Regions from separate parts of the Homo sapiens genome. Here all the other regions are linked to region 1. Evidence: fine-mapped expression QTL. A gene starts in region 1. Each other region holds a variant in brackets. All regions are shown on one strand. Distances are from middle to middle.

Region 1 (8,664 bases):
TGCTAGAACTTGTTAAGTGCTTTTCATATACGTTTTTTCACTTAAATTTCACTGAGCCCTTATAAAATCCAATGAGGTAGGTACTACACAACCTTCATTGGGTTGTATCAGGAATCTGAAGCTTAGAACTGTCTTGTCCAAAGTCATATGGCTAGTAAATGGCACCAGGATTCTAATCGAGGTAACCAGAGTCCAGAGTTTTAATTCTATTCCACTTGACTACCTTTTTCTATTATCAGCCACACTGTCTGCCCACAAAGTATGTACAATTTTGATAGGAAAGGTTAAAATTGCAGTTTTTAAAGGTTCTTGAGCAGAGGAGGAAAGTAAAAACACTGGACAATTTGGCTGTCATTTGTTGATTCAAATGCTTATTGAGTACCTATGTACTAAGCATCACAGTTAGGTCTAGCAGTGTTTTAGTGAAATTCATTTGGCTTCCATGGGCTGATCAGATGAGGAAGGAAGACCAGCTAAAACTGTAGTTATCCAGCAGTTCTGGAGTCATAATAGTGAAAATTAAGAGAAAATGTACAGAATGCTCATTCATTCAGCAACTGTTTACTGTTCTACCTGAACTGTGTACAAGGCTCTGTGCTAGGTGCTGGGGATATAGCCATGAATATGCTTTCACTGAACTGATGTTATAGTGGGGTATGAAGGTGTGGAAAGACACTAAGCTTCTTGCACAAAAAAATCATTTCATTATCATTGAGATAAGGACCATGAAAAGTATGGAGTGTCCCTAATACAGTCTGATGGGTCAGGGAAGACTTCCATGAGGAAATGGTATTTAAACTGTGCTCTAAAGGATGAATGAGATTAGCTGGGTAAAGAAGGGAGGAATGAGTGGAAGAAAGAGGAAAGCATGCGTGAAGGCCCTGAGACAGGGAATCACAAACCTCATCTGAGACACTAGAAGGCCAGCATGGCTGGAGTGGGAGAGGTTTGAGAGGAGCCTGATAAGACTGATGGAGGCCAGAATACACAAGGCCTTCCAGTTTTAATTCCTAAAATACCACTCAGGCTACAAAGGGAAGATTGGATTGAAGAGAGACAGAGGTAGTCGTACAGAAGCCAATTAGGAGGCTATTACAGTAGCCTAAGCAAGAGTTGTGCTGGCTTGGACTGAGTGACAGCAGGGGACATGAACAGATCTTCATAATGGCTTGGATATGCAGTAGGAAGCAAATAAATGTCAGGAAGGGTATTTAGGCATTTCCTTTGATGGCTTTGTTTATCAAGATATGAACAACTGAAGGAGGACCTGGCAGTTTTCTGGAAAGGTTATGAGTTCAGTATGGAAAACACTGAGTTCCAGGCAGCAGTGAGTCATGCAAATAGATTTAAAAGTTGGCTACTTGAGTCTGAAGATCAAGTTTGGAATTTGAACTTGAGCTATATATTTGGTAGTTAATAATAAACAGATAATAAAGGCAAAGCCAAATAAGTAGATGAGATCACCTAGGTAGAGAATACAGTAGAAGAACATGAGAGATGAGGATTATATACTGAATAACTAAAATAATTAAAGATTTGATAAAGAAGATGACTCTATCAAGGTGAAAGAGAAAGAGCAGCTCAAGAGGTAATAGGAAACCTGAAGAATGTGGTGTTGGCAAATTAAGGAGGGAGTCGTCAATGGTGTCAAAGCACTGAAGTTCAAGGAAGATGAGAACAGAAAAATACCATTGGGGTTAGTGATACAAAAGCCGCTTGTGATCTTAGAACTGTTTTGTGAAGCGGAACAGGTGGATACCAATCTCAGAACATCTGACAAGGGGCCAATTAATATTAACTTCTAGCCACCTTTTACTTTACACCTTTTACTTTATACAGTAGCATTATCTACACTTATTTCTAGCTCAACTATACGGACTCTCTAGTTCAACTATATGGAGAAATAATTTACATAGTGCAAGTAATTCCACTGGCCATTCCACTCCATTAATTTATGTGAGCAACAGTGTTAAGTAATTTAAGACGAGAGACTATAAATCTGCTTTTCCCTCAGTTAGTCTTTAAGTCTCTCTTAGCACTAGCACTTTGCTATGTTGAGTGTGATTATAGTGTTTAAAGATACAGTATGTATTTTTCATACAATATAGCCCCTCAACACAAGCCAATTTCTTCACCTGGTTTTCAAACAGAATCAGCCATCTGTTTCAACGCTGGAAAAAAGGCAGGTTGTGCTGAACTTACTGAGACAATACACTGATCTCCAACATGGTGTTCTTCTAAGAGACTTTCCAGGGTAATTCTGATAATATGCATCTTTTGTCTGAGGTATTGACTAGTTCAAGATGACACACTGTAGAGAGACCGCCTATGGATTTACTTGGTTGAGGGACTTCCAGCCAAGACAGACTGTACCCTAGAGATCTGGCATTTTTCCTGCTTAATTCTCTATCCTCCTAGATTCTGGTGGCAGCCTAAACCTTTGGTAACTACCTGACCCTGCCTTATTTACTCTGAACTTAATCTTTTACCTGCCCACTTTGCAGGTCTGCTGCTTCTAAAATTCTTATTTACTGGAAAAACGCCAAACAGTAGACACTTCCAAGGAAAACTCAATTAACTGTACTTACTAAATCGTTTTTAGTAATCAATTATATTTTAAAAATAATTTATGTCTTGACTGCACAATTAAATTCTATGCTCAAGAGAAACTACATTATCTGGGTTCATCCAGTAAAGACTACAAAAGTTGCTAAATGCCTAAGACTTACTATGCAGTAAACCAAATCTCCCATTCCTGCATAATTCCACTAAAACAGAATGCAGCTAAACAAGAGCAAAAGTATCTTCTTAGAAATACAGGTGTGTTACTGTGTCTGCAAATTAAACTCAAACAAGGTCACACACAATTGTAACAAAAAACTTCCCCAAATTACTTATGTCAGCTCCTCTTATGAGCCCACAGGCTGCAGAGAACCAATTTGGAAGCCAGGAGAATCCTGCCCTCTGCTGCTGAGTTGAGGAAATCGCCTCAACATAATTAATCGCTTTTGAGAAGGGAAGTTACACTCTGGGCAAAACACCAGTGAAAGTCAAGTGAGCAAAGTAAACGCTTTCTTGGACTCTTGACATCCGAATTTTCTCAACAGTTTAAACACGCACACCCTGGCATTCAAACATCAAGAACAGTAAATCGGGTTTCAAAACAGAAGTTTTTTTTTTTTTTTTTTTTTTTTTTTCCATTTCTCCCTAAATTAGAGAGCTATCACCTGGGGTGGTCGTATTTTAGCTAGCTTCGAGATCCGAGTGTCTGCGTGCAGTCCCGACGGGGCTGCTAGGCGCGGGGCTGCCCAGCTAGGGACAGGACGCGGCGCTCTCCACTGCCCGCGCAGCCGCGATCAGTCAAAGCCCGGGCTCCGGGGCCGGCTGCGAACGTTGGGGAGGTTGGAGAGGGACGTTTACCTGGGGCCGGTCCCCACTAGGTAGGTGTTGGTGCCTTGGAGGGTCATGGGACCCGGGTTACAGCCCAACACACGCACGACTCGATTGGACAGCCGCTCGACGCGCTGCAGTACAGCAGCCATTCCCGCCTCAGCCGCCCGCCGGCGTGTCGCCTATCTGGATACTCCAGCGCGGAAGAAGCCAACAGGCCGGGGATAGCGAGTAGCGTCCACGTGATGCCTCGCAACCCGGGAGGGAGGGGATTGGCCAGCGGCTGGTCCAGGTGTCATGTGACACCGCGGACGAGCCGGGGCGGGGATCCGGCAGCTAGGCCGGGGGGTGGGGGGGGCGGTGCGGAACTAGAGGTCACGTGACGCCGCGCGGGCTGCGCGGGCAGTGGTGGGAAGGCTGGCGCGAGGCGTGAGGTGGCGTGAGGCGAAGCTGGAATCTGCCTCTGTCACGGGGGCTGGTGCCTCACGGGTTTGTGTCCTAGACAGGCGAGTGGATCCAAGTGGGCGAGAGACATTTTAATCTGGAAGAGTCTTGTGATTTGGGAGACAGGTTTGGTAACCGTTCGTTATTCAGTAATAAATGTCAGGAAGGATTGCCAGATTTTTAGGCAGTGGCTCTGTGTGTGTGTGTGTGTGTGTGTGTGTGTGTGTAGTAGTAGTAGTAGTAGCCTGTTCATTTTTTTTTTTTTTTTTTTTGAGACGAAGTCTCGGTCTGTCGCCCAGGCTGGAGTGCAGTGGCGCGATCTCGGCTCACTGCAAGCCCCGCCTCCCGGGTTCACGCCATCCTCCTGCCTCGGCCTCCCGAGTAGCTGGGACTATAGGCGTCCGCCACCACGCCCGGCTAATTTTTTGTATTTTTAGTAGAGACCGGGTTTCATTGTGTTAGCCAGGAAGGTCTTGATCTCCTGACCTCGTGATCCGCCCGCCTCGGCCTCCCAAAGTGCTGGGATTACAGGCGTGAGCTACCACGCCGGGCCAGCCTGTTCATCTTTTATAATAAATAGTGGTAAGACATATTTACTTAGTACTTCCTACTATGCCTAAGTGCTTTCAACAAACATCCGACTTAACGCCCTTAATCCTCAGAACATTATTAAGAGGTGGACACTATTTTTGTTACAAATGAAAAACGGGGATTGGGCAGCTGCCCAGATGACAGAGTCTGCGTGTGCGGCCTTGCTCCTACCTGCCTCGCACTAACACTTGTCCCCCTCAGTGAGATTCAAGGAGCATGCCTCTGCCTGCCAGTGTTACCTGCCTGCCCAGAGAGCTAGGCTGGTCTTGTGGAGCCGTTTTGTGCCCAAGATGGAAGGGACTCATTTTCTCTGTAACAAGTCGGTTTCTTATCAGCCAAGTATTAACTATCCAGTGTTAACTACAGCTTCCCATAAAAAAAGTTGAGTTATAAATTACTTAAAAGAAAATACACAGATCCTGTAGACAGTTCCATCGAGTTATGACAATTGTATGTAATCACTGCCCCAAAGAGATGTAGAACATATCCACTGTAGCAGCCCACTCTTTTTTTTTTTAAAAAAAGGTGAGAAATTGACACATACAGTGCTTGGTGGCTTTTTTTTTTCCAGATATTTCTGATGAAGAAAACGATCTGCTCTTACCTATTTTATGAATCAGCAGCATAGTGTATCAGAGTGGCTAATGACATCTGCTTTGTGTGTGAGAAATGTCTTTGCCTTGTTTCACACAGTTGTACTTTTAATGGAAAAATATTCAAAAAATCATCGCTGAAATAATCATATAAGTTATCCCCTGTTGCAATGGGAAGTTAAACAGTATACCCTTCAAAAAATACTTAAAGTAACCAAATCTCCTACATCAGGCATTTCAATCTGTCAATATGTATTTATGATAGCCATCAATTAATGGCTATTCAGGCAGGAGGCTTTGCACATCTTCCCTTTTTAAGAACTCTGCTGGAAAGTCAGTGAACCCTGGAGAAGAGGATGGAACAGTAATTTCTGGACCAGATTCCTGAGAATCTGGGCACTCCCCTTCTTTTATTCTTTGGCTTAATTAATTTCCTTACTTAACTTACTTATTTACTTACAGGGTCTGGCTTTCACCCGGGCTGCAGTGCAGTGGCACTATCATAGCTCACTGTAACCTTGAACTCTTGAACTCAAGCGATTCAGGTGATCCTCCTGCTTTGGTCTCCCAAAGTGCTAGGATTGCAGGCTTGAGCCACCATGCCTGGCTGAGATAAACTTTTTAGCTCCCACGTATGAATGAGAATATGTGATATTTGTCTTTCTATGCATGGATTATTTCACTTATCATAATCTCTAGTTCCATCCATGTTGCTGAAAATGACATGATCTCATTTTTTTTTTTTTTTTATTATACTCTAAGTTTTAGGGTACATGTGCACATTGTGCAGGTTAGTTACATATGTATACATGTGCCATGCTGGTGCGCTGCACCCACTAATGTGTCATCTAGCATTAGGTATATCTCCCAATGCTATCCCTCCCCCCTTCCCCGACCCCACCACAGTCCCCAGAGTGTGATATTCCCCTTCCTGTGTCCATGTGATCTCATTGTTCAATTCCCACCTATGAGTGAGAATATGCGGTGTTTGGTTTTTTGTTCTTGCGATAGTTTACTGAGAATGATGGTTTCCAATTTCATCCATGTCCCTACAAAGGATATGAACTCATCATTTTTTATGGCTGCATAGTATTCCATGGTGTATATGTGCCACATTTTCTTAATCCAATCTATCATTGTTGGACATTTGGGTTGGTTCCAAGTCTTTGCTATTGTGAATAGTGCCGCAATAAACATACGTGTGATTGTTTATCTAGAAAACCCCATCGTCTCAGCCCAAAATCTCCTTAAGCTGATAAGCAACTTCAGCAAAGTCTCAGGATACAAAATCAATGTACAAAAATCACAAGCATTCTTATACACCAACAACAGACAAACAGAGAGCCAAATCATGGGTGAACTCCCATTCACAATTGCTTCAAAGAGAATAAAATACCTAGGAATCCAACTTACAAGGGATGTGAAGGACCTCTTCAAGGAGAACTACAAACCACTGCTCAAGGAAATAAAAGAGGAGACAAACAAATGGAAGAACATTCCATGCTCATGGGTAGGAAGAATCAATATCGTGAAAATGGCCATACTGCCCAAGGTAATTTACAGATTCAATGCCATCCCCATCAAGCTACCAATGACTTTCTTCACAGAATTGGAAAAAACTACTTTAAAGTTCATATGGAACCAAAAAAGAGCCCGCATTGCCAAGTCAATCCTAAGCCAAAAGAACAAAGCTGGAGGCATCACACTACCTGACTTCAAACTATACTACAAGGCTACAGTAACCAAAACAGCATGGTACTGGTACCAAAACAGAGATATAGATCAATGGAACAGAACAGAGCCCTCAGAAATATGATCTCATTTTTTTATGGCCAAATAGTATTTTATTGTGTGTATATATCACATTTTCTTTATCCATTTGTTTGTTGATGGACTTTTAGGTTGATTTCATATCTTTCCTATTGTGAATAATGTTGTGATAAACATGCAGGTGCAGTTGTCCCTTTGATATACAAATAGTAGTGGGATTGCTAAATCATATGGTAGTTCTGTGTGTGTGTGTGTGTGTATTTTATACATCTCTGTACTGTTTTCCATAGCGGTTGTACTAATTTACATTCCCACCAACTGTGTATGAGAGTTCCTTTTTCTCTACATCCTCTGCAGCATCTGTTATTGTCTTTTTAATAACAGCTATTCTAACTGGGGTAAGATGATATCTCATTATGGTTTTGATTTGCATTTGCCTGATGATTAGTGATGTTGAGCATTTTTTCATATGTTTGTTGGCCATTTGTATGTCTTCTTTTGAGAATCGTCTATTCATGTTCTGTACCCTCTTTTTGGTGGGATTATTTGTGTTTTCTCTTGTTGAGTTTGAGTTCCTTGTATGTTCTGGATATTAGTCCCTTGTCAGATGAATAGTTTGCAAATATTTTCTTCTGTTCAGCAGATGTCTCTGCACCCTGTTGATTGTTTCCTTTGCTGTGCAGAAACTTTTTCATTTAATATAGTCAAATTTGTCTGTTTTTATTTTAGTCGTATGTGCTTTTGAGGTCTTAGCTACAAAATCTTTGCCTAAACCAATGTCCTTATGTATTTTACCAATATTTTCTTCTAGTAGTTTTATAGTTTAAGGTCTTACGTTTAATCCTTCTTGAGTTGGCTTTTGCATATGATGAGAGACAAGGTCCAGCTTCATTAGCTTTTTTTAAAAATTAAACTTTCACTTGCACTTTCCTTCTGGATTCCATTTAATCAATTGCCAAGCTCCTCATTTGGCAGATGAAGGAATAGGCCAAATGATTTAAAAGTAAGGCAACTTGCATAGGGCCATACAAGGAGATACTAGAAAAAGAGTACAAATAGAAGGTAGATAGTGACTATGTTTTAGATGAGATAAAATTGAGGTAATTGTGGTATATCCAGGTAAAGAAACCTATGGACAGTTAGATATATTTTTTGGTCGGGTGTGGTGGCTCACGCCTGTAATCCCAGCACTTTGGGAGACTAGCCTGACCAACATGGTGAAACCCTGTCTCTACTAAAAATACAAAAATTAGGTGGGCATGGTGGCGGGTGCCTGTAATCCCAGCTACTTGGGAGGCCGAGGCAGGAGAATCACTTGAACCCAGGAGGCGGAGGTTGCAGTGAGCTGAGATCGCGGCACTGCACTCCAGCCTGAGTGACAGAGTGAGACTCCATGTCAAAAAAAAAAAAGATACAAAATTAAGTCTTTGTGAATATGTTTAGAAATGTGACTTGAAGTTTAAGTTCCTCTCCAAGAAATCAGATCAAATATTTTTCACGTTCTGTTCAGTTACACTTACAATAGTTTATTATCTACTTACAACATGCAAGGTAATGTTGTAGACATATTGAGGGCATGTTAAAAATGAATAAGATAATCTTTGCTTTCTAGAGGGTCATAACCATGAAGGAGATACTTTTAAAGTATATATGGGTTCAGGTATGGTGGCATGAGCCTGTAATCCTAGCACTGTTGGGAGGCTGAGTCTGGAGGAGTGCTTGAGCCCAGGAGTTCGAGGTTATAGTGAGCTATGATTGTGCCACTGCACTCCAGCCTGAGTGATGGAGCAAGACCTTGTCTCTTAAAAAAAAGCATATGTGGGTAAATACTAGAAGAGAAGTACAGCTGAAGTGATGAGATTGCAAGGAGAAAGGG
Region 2 (8,664 bases), 98 kb before region 1:
GTCAACAAAGAAACAATGAACTTAAAGTATACCTCAGAATGGACTTAACTGATATTTATAGAACATTCTATCCAATAATGCAGACTATACATACATTCATCAGCACGTTTTTTTATCAGCACATGGAACATTCTCCAAGATAGACCGTATGATAGGCCACAAAACAAGTCCCAGTAAATTTAAGAAAATCAAAATTATATCAAGTATCTTTTCAGACTACAGTGGAATAAAACTGGAAATTAACTCCAAAAAGAGCACTCAAAACTATACAAATACATGGAAATTAAATAATCTGCTCTTGAATGATCTTTGGGCCAACAATGAAATCAAGATGGAAATTTAAAAATTATTCGAACTGAAAAATATTAGTGCCACAACTTTATCAAAACCTCTAGGATACAGCAAAAGCAATGCTAAGAGGAAAGTTCATAGCCCTAAATGCCAACATCAAAAAGTCTGAACGAGCACAAATAGACAATTAAAGTCACACCTCAGGGAACTAGAGAAACAAGAACAAACCAAACCCAAGCCTAGCAGAAGAAAAGAAACACCAAAAATTGGAGCAGAAGTAAATAAAATTGAAACAACAACAAAAACAAACATAAATGCAACAAAAGCTATTTTTTTGAAAAGATAAACATCGATAGACCATTAGCGAGATTAACCAAGAAAAGAAGATCCAAATAGGCTCAATTAGAAATGAAACAGGAGACATTACAACCGATATCACAGAAATACAAAAGATCATTCAAGGCTACTATTAACATCTTTATGCACACAGACTAGAACATCTAGAGGAGATGGATAAATTCCTGGAAATATACGACCCTCCTAGATTAAATCAGGAAGAAACAGAAACTCTGAACAGACCAATAACAAGTAGTGAGATTGAAACAGTAGTAAAATAAATTGCCAACAAAAAAAGTCCAGGAACAGACGGATTCACAGCTGAATTCTATCAGACATTCCAAGAAGAATTGGTACCAATCTTACTGAAACTATTATAAAAGATAGTGAAAGAGGGAATCCTCTCTAAATCACTCTATGAAGCCAGTATCACCCTAATACCAAAACTAGTAAAGGATGTAACAAAAAAAGAAAACTACAGATCAATATCTTTGATGAACACAGATGGAAAAATCCTCAACAAAATACTAGCTAACTGACTCCAACAGCATATCAAAAAGGTAACACACCATGATCAAGCGGGTTTCATACCAGGGATGCAGGGATGGTTTAACATACACAAATCAACAATTGCGATATATCACATAAACAATTAAAAACAAAAATCATATGATCATCTCAATAGATGCAGAAAAGCATTTGACAAAATCCAGTATCCTTTTATGATTAAAACCCTCAGCAAGATTGACACAGAAGGGACATACCTCAAGGTAATAATGACAATCTATGACAGACCCACAGCCAACATTATACTGAATGGGGAAAAGTTGAAAGTATTTCCCCTGAGAACTAGAACAAGGTAAGAATGCCCACTTTCATCACTACTATTCAATATAGTACTGGAAGTCTAGCCAGAGCAATCTGACAAGAGAAAGAAATAAAGGGCATCCAAGGCAGTAAAGAGGAATTCAAACTGTTGCTGTTTAACGATGATATGATCATGTACCTTGAAAACCCTAAAGACTCATCCAAAAAGCTCCTAGATCTGATAATGAATTCAGTAAAATCTCAGGATACAAAATCAATTGCACAAACCAGTAGTTCTGCTGTACACCAACAATGACCAAGCTGAGAATCAAATCAAGAACTGAATCCCTTTTATGACAGCTGCAAAACAAACAAACCCCCAAAACTTAGGAATATACCTAACCAAGGAGGTAAAAGATCTCTATAAGGAAAACTACAAAACAATGCTGAAAGAAATCATGGATGACACAAACAAATGGAAACACATTTCATGCTCACGGATGGGTAGAATCAATATTGGGAAAATGACCATACTGCCAAAAGCAATCTACAGATTCAATGCAATTCCCATCAAAATACCACCATCATTCTTCACAGAACTAGTAAAAACAATCCTAAAATTCATACGGATCCATAAAAAGAGCTCACATAGCCAATGCAACACTAAGGAAAAAGAACAAATCTGGAGGAATCACATTACCCAACTTCAAACTAGGCTATAGTTACCAAAACAGCAAGATCGTGGTAGAAAAATAGGCACACAGACCAGTGGAACAGAATAGAGAAACCCAGAAATAAAGCCAGATACTTACAGCCAACTGTTCTTAAACAAAGCAAACAAAAACATAAAGTAGGGAAAGGACACCCTATTCAACAAATGGTGCTGGGATGATTGGCAAGTCACATGTAGAAGAATGAGACTGGATCCCCATCTCTCACTTCATACAAAAATCAACTCAAGATGGATCAAAGACTTAAATCTAGGACCTGACACCATAAAAATTCTAGAAGATAACATCAGAAAAACTCTTCTAGACATTGGCTTAGGCAAAGAGTTCATGACCAAGAACCCAAAAGCGAATGTAACAAAGAAAAAATAAATAGATGGGACCTAATTAAACTAAAAAGCTTCTGCACAGCAAAAGAAATAATCAGAGTAAACAGACAACCCACAGAGTAGGAGAAAATATTCACAAACTATGTATCCAACAAAGGACTAATAACCAGATTTACAACAAATTCAAACAAATTAGCAAGAAAAAAATTCCATCAAAAAGTGGGCAAAGGACATGAATAGAAAATTCTCAAAAGAAGATACATGAATAGCCAATAAACATGAAAAAATCCCCAACATCACTGATTGTCAGGGAAATACAAATTAAAACCACAATGAGATACCACCTCACTCCTGCAAGAATGGCCATAATTAAAAAAAAAAAATAGATGTTGATGTGGATGTTGTGAAAGGGAACTTTTACACTGCTGGTGTGAATGTAAACTAGTACAACTACTATGGAAAACAGTATGGAGATTCCTTAATAAACTAAAACTACCATTTGATCTAGCAGTCCTACTACCGGGTATCTGCCCAGAGGAAAAGAAGTCATTATATGAAAAAGACACTTGCACACGCATGTTTATAGCAACACAATTTGCAATTACAAAAATATGGAACCAGCCTAAATGCCCATCAACCAACATGTTGATAAGGAAAATGTGGTATATTTATACCATGGAATACTACTCAGCCATAAAAAGGAATAAAATAATGGCATTTGCAACAAACTGGATGGAGCTTGAGACCATTTTTGTAAGTGAAGTAACTCAGGAATGGAAAACCAAGTATCGTATATCTTCACTTACAAGTGGGAACTAAGCTATGAGGATGCAAAGGCATAAGAATGACATAATGGATTTTGGGGACTCAGGGAAGGATAGTAGGGGAGTGAGGTATAAAAAACTACACATCGGGTACACTGTACACTGCTCACGTGGGAAGTGCACCAAAATTTCAGAAATCACCACCACATAACTTATCCATGTGACCCAAACCATCTGTTCCCTAAAATCTATTGAAAAAAAAAGTGTTAGTAATCACACTTGTAATCGCAGCACTTTGGGATACTGAGGCAGGAGCATCGCTCAAGGTGAGGAGTTTGACACTGGCTTGGGCAATATAGTAAGACCCCTGGCTCCCTGTGTATATATTTTAAAAAACAAAAGTAAGCATGGTACTTGCAAAACAAACAAACAAAAACACCAAGTACATATGAAACAGAATAGAGAGCCCATAAATGAACCCAGGTATACACATGGTCAATTGCTTTTCCACAAAGGTGCCAAGAATATACAATGGGAAAAGAATAGTCTCTTCAATAAATGGTGCTAGGAAAACTAGATACCCACATGCAGAATGAAATTGGACCTTCATCTTACCTATATGCAAAAATCAACTCAAAATAGATTAAGGACTTAAATGTAAGACCAGAAACTGTAACACTACTAAAGGAAACATAATGGAAAAACTGCCAATTGAAACCACAGTATGATGTCATCTTACACCTGTCACAATGGCTATCATAACAAAAACAAAAGATAACAAATGTTGGCAAGGATGTGGAGAAAAGGGAATCAGTATACACTGTTAAGAATGTAAATTAGTACAGCCATTAAGGAAAACTGAAGTTCTTCAAAAAACTAAAATAGAATTACCATATGATCCAGCAATCCCACTTCTGAGAATTCAACCCAAAGATTTGAAATCAGTGTGTCGAAGAGATTTGAAATCAGTGTGTCGAAGAGATGTTTGCAGCCCTGTGTTCACTGTAGCACTAAATTTACAATAACCAAGTTATGGAATCAACCTAATGTCTATCAGCAGATGAATGGCTAAAGAAAATGTGGAAAATGGGGTATATATACACAATGGAATACTATTCAGCCTTTAAAAAAGACATTCTG[T/C]CATTTGTGACAACATGGATGAAACTGAAGAACATTATGCTAAGTGAAGTAAATCAGACACAGAAAGACAAATATGGCACATACTTACTTATATATGGAATCTAAAACAAACTCACAGAATCAGAGTGTAGAATGACGGTTACAAAGGCTCAGGGCTGAGAGGAATGGGGAGATGATGGTCAAAGGGTGTAAAATATGGCAGAAGGAATTTTTTAGTTCTACTGCACAGCATGGTAAATATAGTTAATAACAGCATTATACATTTCAAAACTAAATTTCCATGTTCTCATCACAAAAAATGTTAAGTGTTTGAGGTGATGGATGTTAACTAGCTTAATTATTCCATTATACTCATAAATCATAACACCATTTTGTACCCCCACGTACAATTATAAATTGTCAATTTACAGTTAAAAAAAATGCAGGAGGCATTTTGTGGAGGGAAAGACTAAACCCCAGAGTAGCAAAGCAACTAATTCATGGTCCCCCCGGGTTTAAGACAGAGCCATGAGCCTTGTCCAGGTGTGGGTCCCTACAGGATTCCCATCATGCTTTGAAGCTCGACTTGAGCCCAGGTGATAATGGCAGGCTCTGCAGGATCTGGAAGCCAGTACAGACTTTCCTCAGCACATTTGAGAGCAGGATGTAGGGCTCATAATTTATAATCATACTTGTGTGTATATGTGCTTCTGTGTATATATTAGCCCTTGGTAATGACATGTCAAGGGCTTTTTTTTTTCTTTGCCTAAACACAGTGTATGCTGCAGAAAACAAAGTGCTATAGTAATTCAGTGAACAGAAAATTCTACAGGCAAATAAGGTGGGAAACACTGCATATTATATCCAACATTCTTGGTGCACCAGGAAACACGTTTGCATATTAAGGACTGAACGGTCCCATAATAAAGAGACACCTTTAGGTTAGTTTAATCCAGTGATTCCCAGATTTATTTGGTTATGACCATCTATCCCCCCAGTAGTCCTCACCAATATTCTGTGGAACAAATCTGTTTATTTGCAGAACACAATTTTGAAAAGGGTTATTCTGAATGTCTATGAAGTGTTTTAAATATGGTACATTTTAATGAGGTTATATACCAAAATAGCCTAAACACCAACAATGACAGAAACATCCAGGATACAACTTGTGAAAGTAAAAATTTTTATTTTGATTGATTTCTCAATGTATAGTTCAGTATAATGCCAGTTTTTAATGGCAAAAATTTGGTTCCACTGAAACTCCATAATGCTACAGAGAGCTACTACTTTTTCCAGGAAGTAGGTTAACAGCTAGAAAGAAAAAGGACAATTTCCTAGCAGCATGGCAACTTAAACTGCAGATCTAATAGGTCTGCAACTTTTACACTAAAAATGGCACAAACAGCTGGTGACACAAGTGAGAAATGGGGAACAAGATGTGAACACTGAAAAGAACAATATATATACTGTAAATATGATGAATAAACCAAATGTAGCTATAAGAATCTTAAAGGATGATTATAGAAAAGGGAACCAAATATTTTCCTCAAATGCTTTTTAGAGCCTTTCTGTAGAGATACAAATATATATATATATATTTATCCAAAAATATGTTTTATACAGATAAATGTTTCTCAATTAAAGATGGGACCAAAGCTATAGGTATAACATAAAGCACATTGTCTTTTGTAAGACTATTTATCCACCTGAATTTTCAATTTCTTTAAAGTTAGTGCATTAAATGTTTTCCAAATATAATTACCTGTCAGTCTTTTTATAGATATAAATCAAGTAGGCATTATGTTTTAAAAGTGTTTGCAGGTTAAACTTTTCTAAGATGCTGTGCATATTAAACTTATTATGAGCCCCATTAAGAATCATTATTAATAAACATATCAAAAAGGGCTATATGTCAGATTTTCCTGTTCATAGTAAATATTTTCTGATTTCCAGTTTACAAGTATTGAAAATGCACAAGAAAGATTTTACTTCACAAGTACTTTTAAGAATATACTTTGATTTAATATGTATGTTAGTAAAACTCCACGTGTTGTAACGATTATTATGTTTTTGTTTTTAAAATGGGGATGTAATACTAATAACCACTACCTATAAAATAAAGCACACAATTGTTCCGGTGATTTTACAAATCTTTTTTTCCAGGTGTAAAGTCTACAAAAATTCCAAAAAATTAGAGAACACTGAAAACATATTAAAGTTTGACATCCAACTTTATAGTATTTCCATGTTACCCTGAAAGATAACTTAAAAAATATGGCCTTCTTAGAACAGGCCACTCTGCTATTATAAAAAATTGGTGACAGCAAGAAATTGTATCACTGATATGTGGAATTTTTGTAAATAGTTTTCTCTCCAAATCATTAGAAAAATGTTCAAAAATAAAAACAAAATAAAATATGGTGGTGGTCCCTAAACTATTTTGAAGGCAGGTAGCTTAGTCTAAGCTAAAATATTTTTTTCATTCATAGCAATAATCCTCCCCTCAAATGCCCTTTAAAAAAATGCATGAAACCGTACAATAGCAAAAATCAAAGAGCACAGACTGTATTTTCAAGAACAGAAAAATCTCTAATGCTGAAAGATATAGTAGAAAGCAGATTTCTTTGGGGACATTAATCAATTAGTTTATAATTCATTATGAAGATTTCTCTTTTTTATTCCGGGGAGAGTCTGCTACATTTGAAGTTAATGTTCCATTCACACCATTTTCTGCAAAAAGAAAAGAATCCATGTTACTCTCTTTTATAAATAAATGCAAGTTATAATCTTTATATGTAAAGATACCTTCAGAAAAGAAAATGTAAAATCCAATTCACTCAGGTGAAATTTACTTACCAGTATTTAACCAATCACAAAACCTGGTAACATTTTTAACACAATGAACTGAAAGTAGCAAATTAAAAGAAAACTACTATTAAAAGCAGAAAAAAGTGACAGCACAGAAAACTATAAAGTCACAAGAATTTAAAAATAGTATTCAAGAGAAATACCTTCTGTAGAAATAAAGAAACTTTTCACATTTGACAGCGAAGTCCTTGGGGATATTTGTTTACAATATAGTAAAGTTGGTGTTTAGGATAATTTCTATGTGGAGGCGTGTATTATGGCCTTCTTTTTATTTATTTATGTTACTGTTGTTTTTTGAGACAGGGTCTCACTCTGTCACCAAGGCTGTGTAGTGGCACGATCATGGCTCAATGCAGTCTTGAACTCCCGGGGACCAGTGATGCTCCCGGGGACCTCAGCCTCCCAAATAGCTGGGACTACAGGCATGTGCCACCACACCTGGCTAATAGTAATGGCCTTCTTCAAGCTATGATGGAGTAGCGTATGTGTGACTGACTCTCTCTCCAAAAATACAAAAGTTGCATACAGAAATGGATGTTTGAGGCGGGGGCAATGGCTTGCACCTATAATCACAGCACAAGTGGAATCCCAGCACAGATATCATTGAACTGAATAATAATGAAAAAGACATATTGAAACCTGTGAAATACAGACTAAGCATGGTGGCTCACGCCTGTAATCCCAGCACTTTGGGAGGCTGAGGTGGGTGGATCACCTGAGGCCAGGAGTTCAAGACCAGCCTGGCCAACGTGGTGAAATGCCATCTCTACTAAAAATACAAAAATTAGCTGGTTGTGGTGGTGGGTGCCTGTAATCCTGACTACCTGGGAGGCAGGAGAATCACTTGAGCCCGGGAGGCAAAGGTTGCAGTGAGCTGAGATCGCGCCACTGCACTCCAGCGTGGGCAACAGAGCTAGACTCCATCTAAAAAAAAAAGAAAAAAAAAAAAAAACCACACAAAAAAAAACCCCAAAACAAAACAAAAAATCCTTGTGAAATACAGTTAAAGCAGTGTTGAAAGGAAAAGTTTACCATTAACTGAATGTAATTCACAAGAGATACAAATCAATGCTCCAAAGATCCATCTCAAGAAGGTAAATCACAAACAAAACCGCAAATTAAACCCAATGAAAAGGAAAGAATAGAAATCAATGATCCAGAAAAGAGACAACTAGGAAAATCAACACAAAAAGACAAATGTTGGTTTTGACTGATGGAAGGAAAGATAAAAGGCTTACGTTACTAACAACATGAAATGAAAAACAGGAATCACTCCTGATTTAGAGGTGTTAACAGGATAACGAAAGTCATATGAATAATTTTATGCCGATGTATTTGCAAATTTATATGAACTAGACAAATTCCTTGAAAAACATTATTTACCAAAAGAGAAACGACTAAGAAACAGAAAATGTGAACAAT
Region 3 (7,002 bases), 110 kb before region 1:
CCACTTTAGTTTCATTGTCCCTCCCAACCTACTCTATGGGCTACATCTTTTCCTTCCTGAGGATATAATCTCAGGCAGGTCCCTATAGCTTGCAAGGACAGTTGTAGGCCATACAAAGTCACTTTCAATGGCAAGAACTGACTTATATTAGTAACTGAGGCATGACCAGTGAAATGATCAAAACTCCTGGGTCGGGGGCACAGGCTGTGGCAGTCTCCAGATGCAGCAGCTGCTGCACTCTTCATGGGTCCGCCCTGCCAGGCAGTAGGAGGAAAGGGCACCCTGTCTGGGGTCCTCTTTTCTCAGGTGCCCTGTTGCGGGCATTCCCAAGCTGTAGGCCTATATGAGCACATCCAGCCATTGGGGATTCATCACCCCCTCTCCTGTGTGGCAGATTTGTGTGAAACTCTGTCCTCAAAACTCATGCCTGCAGCAATGCCTGAAAGGTCCTGGCTCAGCTCCCAGTGAGGAGGAAGCAGTCCCTCCCCATCCCAGTGAGGGAAGTGCTGGGCATGTCCCAGTACCCCAGCGACCCTCCCCACACTTTTCCCATCCAGGTCTTCTACAGGCCAGAGTTGGTGTTTGTCAGTGCCAGGAAAACACTCACAGTCTCTTCCCATGTGCTCGGAGGAGTCCAGCATCTGCTGCCCACGGGGGACCAGACCAGACAAAGATCCACCCCAACCCCCAATCCTCTTGACCTTAGGTGCATGAGAAAAATGCGTGAAAGTGAGGCAGAGGGAACCCCTTGGTGACACCTGTTGCTCTTTTTCACTGAGGGCACCCATGGCTTTCTAGGAAACAGATTTGATGAACTTTTTTTAGGCTTTGTATTTTTTCTTCTTTGAAACTTTTGGCACTGCCAACCATTCATTCCCTGAAGTCCTCTTGCTTAGTTTCTGTGACTTCTATTTTTTTTTTTAATGATTTGAGACAGAGTCTCACTCTTGTTGCCCAGGCTGGAGTGCAGTGGTGTGATCCCAGCTCACTAAAACCTCCACCTCCCGGGTTCAAGCATTTCTCCTGCCTCAGCCTCCTAAGTAGCTGAGATTATAGGCGCCTGCCACCACACCCGGCTAATTTTTGTAGTTTTAGTGGAGACGGGGTTTTGCCATGTTGGCCAGGCTGGTCTCAAACTCCTCATCTCAGGTTATCCATGTTGGGATTACAGGCGTGAGCCACCATGTTCGACCTCTTTGTGCATCTTCTTTTTTTTTTTTTTTTTTTTTTGAGATGGAGTCTCGCTTTGTCACCTAGGCTGGAGTGCAGTGGCTCAATCTTGGCTCACTGCAAGTTCCACCACCCAGGATCAAGTGATTCTCCTGTCTCAGCCTCCTGAGTAGCTGGGATTACAGGCACCCACTACCATGCCTGGCTAATTTTTGCATTTTTAGTAGAGACAGGGTTTCACCATGTTGGCCAGGCTGGTCTTGAACTCCTGACCTCAGGTGATCCACCCACTTCGGCCTCCTAAAGTGCTGGGATTACAGGTGTGAGCCACCACGCCAGGACTTTGTACATCTTCTAAGCAGTCTTGTCCTTGTTTTGCCAGACTGTGTGGTAGGACACAGTGAAGAACAGAGGCTCCACCACAGACATGTGCAAAACCTGGCTTTGCCACTTACTAAGTCACTTGACCCCTCTGAGATTCAATTTCTATAAAACAGTGTTAATAGGATGATCCCCAACTATTCAAGGTATCCTTGTGGAGTTTATAAATGATGGGGGTAAAGCACATAAAATACCAACTGGGACTTATCCATCGATAAATATTAGCAATATATACTGAATTTCATGCAATCTAAGAATTCGTCAGTGTCTTAGTCTACTTTGTGAAGCTATAACAGAATACCACAGGCTGGATGATTTATAATAGACAGAAATGTATTGGCTTATGGTTCTGGAGGCTAGGAAGTCCAAAACTGAAGGTCCAGCATCTGGCAGGGGCATTCTTGCTGTATAACTCCATGGCATAAAGGCAAAGAGAGGGAGAGAGAGAGAGAGACAGAGAGAGGGAGAGAAAAATAGAGGTGTTTAACTTGTCTTTTTATTTATTTATTTATTTATTTGTTTATTTATTTATTTTGAGACAGGGTCTCACTTTGTCACCCAGGCTGGAGTGCAGTGGCACAACCATGGCTCACCGAAGCCTCAACTTCCTGGGCTCAAGTCATCCTCCTGCCTCAGCCTCCTGAGTAGCTGGGACCACAAGCATGTGCCACCATGCCCTACTAATGTTTTTAATCTGTTGTAGAGGTGGGGTTTCACCATATTGCCCAGGCTAGTCTTGAACTCTGGGGCTCAAGCAGTCCTCCCACCTTGGCCTCCCAAAGTGCTGGGATTACAGGCATGAGCCACCATGCCTGACCTAACTTGTCCTTTCATCAGAAACCCACTCCCATATTAACATTAATCTATTTATATGGGCAGAGTCTTCATGGCCTAATCACCTCTTAAAGATCCCACCTCTAAATACTATTACAAAGGAAATTAAATTCCAACATGAGTTTAGGAAGAGACAAACATTTAAACCCTAACAATCAGGTTAAAAAAAAAAGTCTTTATGCTGTAGGCCACTAAGAGAAATTTGCTACTGAAAGACCCATTTTTATTTCAGAAATGCTAAAGTATGAAGAGAGCACATTTAGAAAAAAGAAAATACAGTATCCTTGTAGCAATGGTCTGAATGTTTATATCACCATGCCCCCCAAATATATATGTTGAAATCCTACCCCCACGAGGTGATGATGGTGTTAGGAGTGGGACCTTTGAGAGGTGATTAGGTCATGAAGGCTCTGATCTCATGATTGGGATTAGTGTTTTTATAAAAGAGGTCCAGAGAGCTGCCTTGTCCTTTCTGCCATGTCCTTGCTGTCACAGCAAGAATGCACCATTTATAGCCAGGCGTAGTGATGTGCGCCTGTAGGTCCAGCTCCTCAGGAGGCTGAGGTGGGAGGATCGCTTGAACCTGGGAGGTGGAGGTTGCAGTAAGCCTTGATCATACCACTGCACCCCCGCCTGGGGGACAGAGTGAGATCCTGCCTCAAAATAAATAAGATTGTGGAAGATAAAGACTGGGCTGTGGGAGGTTATTGTGGGGACTCTGAGGTAGGAGAGGTCCTGTGCTATATATAATACTAGGATGTATGAAAGGCAAGCATCCTTTCCCCATTTCGTTCATTTCAAAAGCAAGGTGCTGAACCCTGCTGCATGCAGGGGAAGATGAAGAGACACTGTAATTAATGTGAACCATCCTCTCAGGAACAGACATTTGCAGAACTGAAGGGGAGTCAGAGCATTTCCGGATAGGAACTCATTAAAACTAAGCTTCTCTGAAATGAGAATCACTAAGTACAAAACATCCCATGCAACTGATAACTTCTGTTTTTTTAGGCAATTAAAAATATCAAGAAGAAATTAATTTCTAATACTTTTATTGATCCAATACTTTTAAGACCAAACTTTCATATAAATGAGCAAAGTTCTGGACCCACTTTTAACTTGTTCCCCCACTTTGGCCATTCCGTCAGAGCAAACCATAGCAGTGTGGGGGTCTCCTCTTTGGAACTGGAAATTGTGGTATGTAAGAACACAATTTTAGATGGAAGGGCAAATACTGCATAAGGATCAGCTGACATAAAGATCAGCTGAAGTAACCAACTGAAAAAAAAAATCACAGGGCAAAAGTGTTTCTTTTAGTAGAGAAGTGGGGACATTAGAAAAAAAAAGAAAAGGAACAAATAAGAGCAGCTGGGTTGATGAGTATAACGAATACAGCTGCTCTTACCTTTGGAGACTAAA[G/A]TGCTGACATGAATGGAGTGTGAGTGGAAAATTAGGCTGGTGATTGCAGTAGCCCCTACTGAGTATTTACTCCACAGCAATATATAATGGGGTATGATTGGCATTGCCTATTAAGAGATGCCGGACTGTAATCGGAATGTTGATACTCATCAAAATACAGTAAAACAAGGAGAGCAGTGATTACTTAAACCTGAAGTTACAAGATGGCATTGCTTTTTAAAGTTCTTTATTCTGGCCTGGCGCAGGGGCTCAAATCTGTAATCCCAGCACTTTGGGAGGCAGAGGCAGGAGGATCACTTGAGTCCAGAAGTTCGAGACTAGCTTGGGCAACATAGGGACATCTGCAAATTATTTATATCTCTACAGATAGTTAAAAAATCAGCCAGGTGTGGTGGTGTGCACCTGTGGTCACAGCTACTTGGAAGGCTGAGCCAAGAGGATCACCTATGCCCAGGAGGTTGAGACTGCAGTGAGCTGTGATCACACCACTGCACTCCAGCCTGGGAAACAGAGCGAGACCTGGTCTCAAAACAAACAAACAAACAAAAATTCCTTATTCTGTTTGATCCTTCATAAAAACAAATTAAAAAAAAACCCCGCCACCACAGGTCATGCAAAATTAAGTTGCTATATAATAGCAGAATAAGCCTGAGCTTACTGTATAAAGGCCAATATTTAGAGATGTTTTGTAAATTTCAATGAAAATCACTGCAGAGTATTATCTCTTCAGAAAGAGATTTCTTTTTGCTAACAATTATCTGTCCTTCTCCATCTCATTCCTTCGAACCAGTATTTCTGCACTGAGACAGAGTTGACTCACCATATCAACAAAGAAATGACTTCTAGGTTTCAACTAGGGCTTTCTGTTCCCAGAGAATGATTGATGATTCTGCAGTTATGGAATTTCTCTTTGAAGATGAAGCTGAACCCAGCCTCACATCTCTTTTGAATTTTTTAAAGCTTCCTACATGTATTAGGGTGTAGGTAAGCCACTGATATAGTTTCGGTATTTGTCCCCTCCAAATCTTATGTTGAAATGTGATCTCCAATGTTGAAGGTGGGGCCTACTGGGAGGTGTTTGAGTCATGGGGGTGGATCCCTTGTGAATGACTTTGTGCCCTCCCCAAAGTAATGAGTTTGTGTGAGATGTGGTTGTTATAGAGACTGGAACTTTCCTCCTCTTTCTCTTGTTCCCCTTCTAACCATGTGACACATCTACTTCCCCTTCACCTTCCACCAGGAGTAAAAGCTTCCTGAGGCCTTATGAGAAGCTGAGCAGATGATGATGCTATGTTTCTTGTACAGCCTGCAGAACCATTAGCCAATAAACCTGTTATCTTTAAAAATTACCTAGCCCCAGGGGTTCCTTTATAGCAATGCAAAACAAATGGATACAACCACCAATCATTGTAACATATTCCTGGTAGTCTTCAAGGCCTTAATTCTACAGAATTGAATTTACTTCTTAAAAACCATACTTAATTTTTCATTTACTTAGTATATACAGTATAGATATTTTCCCTTCAGACCTAAGTGACAAATAACCGGTGTCACATTGTTTGTATGTTGTCATTCCTTTGAAATGGAAAAGGACCACTATAGGTGATCCTGAGGTCACTAGTGACTTAGATGAGGTTGATTAAATTGCATTGATAATTAAATTATAGGCCAAGTGCTGTGACTCACACCTGTAATTCCAGCACTTTGGGAGGCTGAGGCAGGTGGATTGCTTGAGCGCAGGAGTTTGAGACCAGCCTGGGCAACGTGGTGAAACCCCCATCTTTATAAAAAATACAAAAATTAGCTGGGCGTAATGGTGTGCACCTGTAGTCCCAGCTACTCTGGAGGCCGATGTGAAAGGGTTGCTTGAACCCAGGAGGTGGTGGTTGCAGTGTGCTGAGATGGCGCCACTGCACTCCAGCCTGAGCGACAGAGCTAGGTAAATTATAATTGTTCTCATAAGTAACTTTACTGTGTTTTCTTTTTTTTGTTGTTGAGATGGAGTTTCGCTCTTGTTGCCCAGGCTGGAGTGCAATGGCACAATCTTGGCTCACCACAACCTCTACCTCCCGGATTCAAGCGATTCTCCTGCCTCAGTCTCCTGAGTAGCTGGGATTATAGGCATGCGCCACCAAGCCCGGCTAATTTTTTATTTTTGGTAGATACGGGGTTTCTCCATGTTGGTCAGGCTGGTCTCAAACTCCCAACCCCAGGTGATCCACCTGCCTCGGCCTCCCAAAGTGCTGGGATTACAGGCGTGAGCCACCGTGCCTGGCCGTATTTTCTTATATTTGATATAAGAAGAGAAAAGGATTAGTTCAGAAGGCAATCAGCAAGGACACAACAGAGTATGTACCTTAGTCTTCAGATTTCACTCTTTCACACATGACCCACACTTACATGTGGATGCCCCATGTACTGTCACATCCAGGCCTTCCAGCCCACTTGGAGAAATGTGAATTCTAGGACATTTTATGATATCAGTTCAAACTTCATGATAAACATTGTGTTGTAACGTTCTCATTTACCTAATGAAGTTTGATTCTTTACACTGGAAGGTTAGGCAACTCCAAGCAGCCAAAAATTCTCTAGAAGTTATATACATCAGCTAAATGGAAATATGGCCCCATAAACCATAGATATCTGACTTTAAAAAGTCATTCCTTAGAAACCATACCTACAACTCGCTTTTATAATTATTATATCACATAGGTATAAATGATTCAGCACAGACTTGGATGTTTGATTTATGAATGTTTGTGTTGGTGAAGCATGCCTGCACAGTCATCCAATGATTCAGTGTAACTTTGCTGGCTGTAATGTTGGCTTGAACATTTCTTGCAACTTTATTGGCCCATCTGCTCCAGAGTAGAGTCGTGGAACACTGTGCTTGCATTGCATGGCATGAATGCTGAACAGTGTTGTGAAACTTCAACATAAAACAGAAAAGTGGTAACAGCAGTGACAATTACTGCTGTGTTTGTCACAACCTTATGAGCTAGCAACTAACATTTAATAAACATCAGGCATAGGGCTATGCACAGTTCATGTTCATATCTTGTGGAGTAGGTGTTATTACCACAGAAAACTGTGGTACAGACATTTAATCACACAGAGCTGATCAGTGGAGGAGTCACGATTTGAACTCTGGTTAGCTAGTCTTACCACTGTGTAACTATTCATAATAACTGAAATCAATAA

Which allele goes with the higher level. Alleles are on the strand shown, and positions count from the first base shown. SD is a standard deviation of normalised expression in the study named. Not every link is listed here.
For the expression in monocytes of the gene that starts at base 3,607 in region 1, T is the low allele of the variant in region 2 and C is the other (large effect, 1.2 SD a copy in Fairfax 2014).

Evidence for each region. PIP is the estimated chance that this variant, and not a neighbour inherited with it, causes the effect.
Region 2: its variant is the best candidate, but not a certain one, in a credible set for the expression of LACTB2 in monocytes (Fairfax 2014, PIP 0.86).
Region 3: its variant is the best candidate, but not a certain one, in a credible set for the expression of LACTB2 in whole blood (INTERVAL, PIP 0.81).

Annotation. Positions count from the first base shown.
Region 1 is chr8:70,665,579-70,674,242 of GRCh38, forward strand. LACTB2 (lactamase beta 2) reads right to left here and starts at 3,607. Exons shown (of 7, transcript NM_016027.3): 1 at 3,421-3,607. The coding sequence starts at 3,542. It overlaps XKR9 (XK related 9), which reads left to right and starts at 3,761. Exons shown (of 5, transcript NM_001011720.2): 1 at 3,761-3,960.
Region 2 is chr8:70,567,902-70,576,565 of GRCh38, forward strand. TRAM1 (translocation associated membrane protein 1) reads right to left here. Exons shown (of 11, transcript NM_014294.6): 11 at 5,317-7,104. The coding sequence ends at 7,031. Among named protein-coding and RNA genes, the nearest start is that of TRAM1, 36 kb to the right of the region's middle. The variant T/C (reference allele first, on the strand shown) is at 4,396.
Region 3 is chr8:70,552,633-70,559,634 of GRCh38, forward strand. No RefSeq gene overlaps it. Among named protein-coding and RNA genes, the nearest start is that of TRAM1, 52 kb to the right of the region's middle. The variant G/A (reference allele first, on the strand shown) is at 3,802.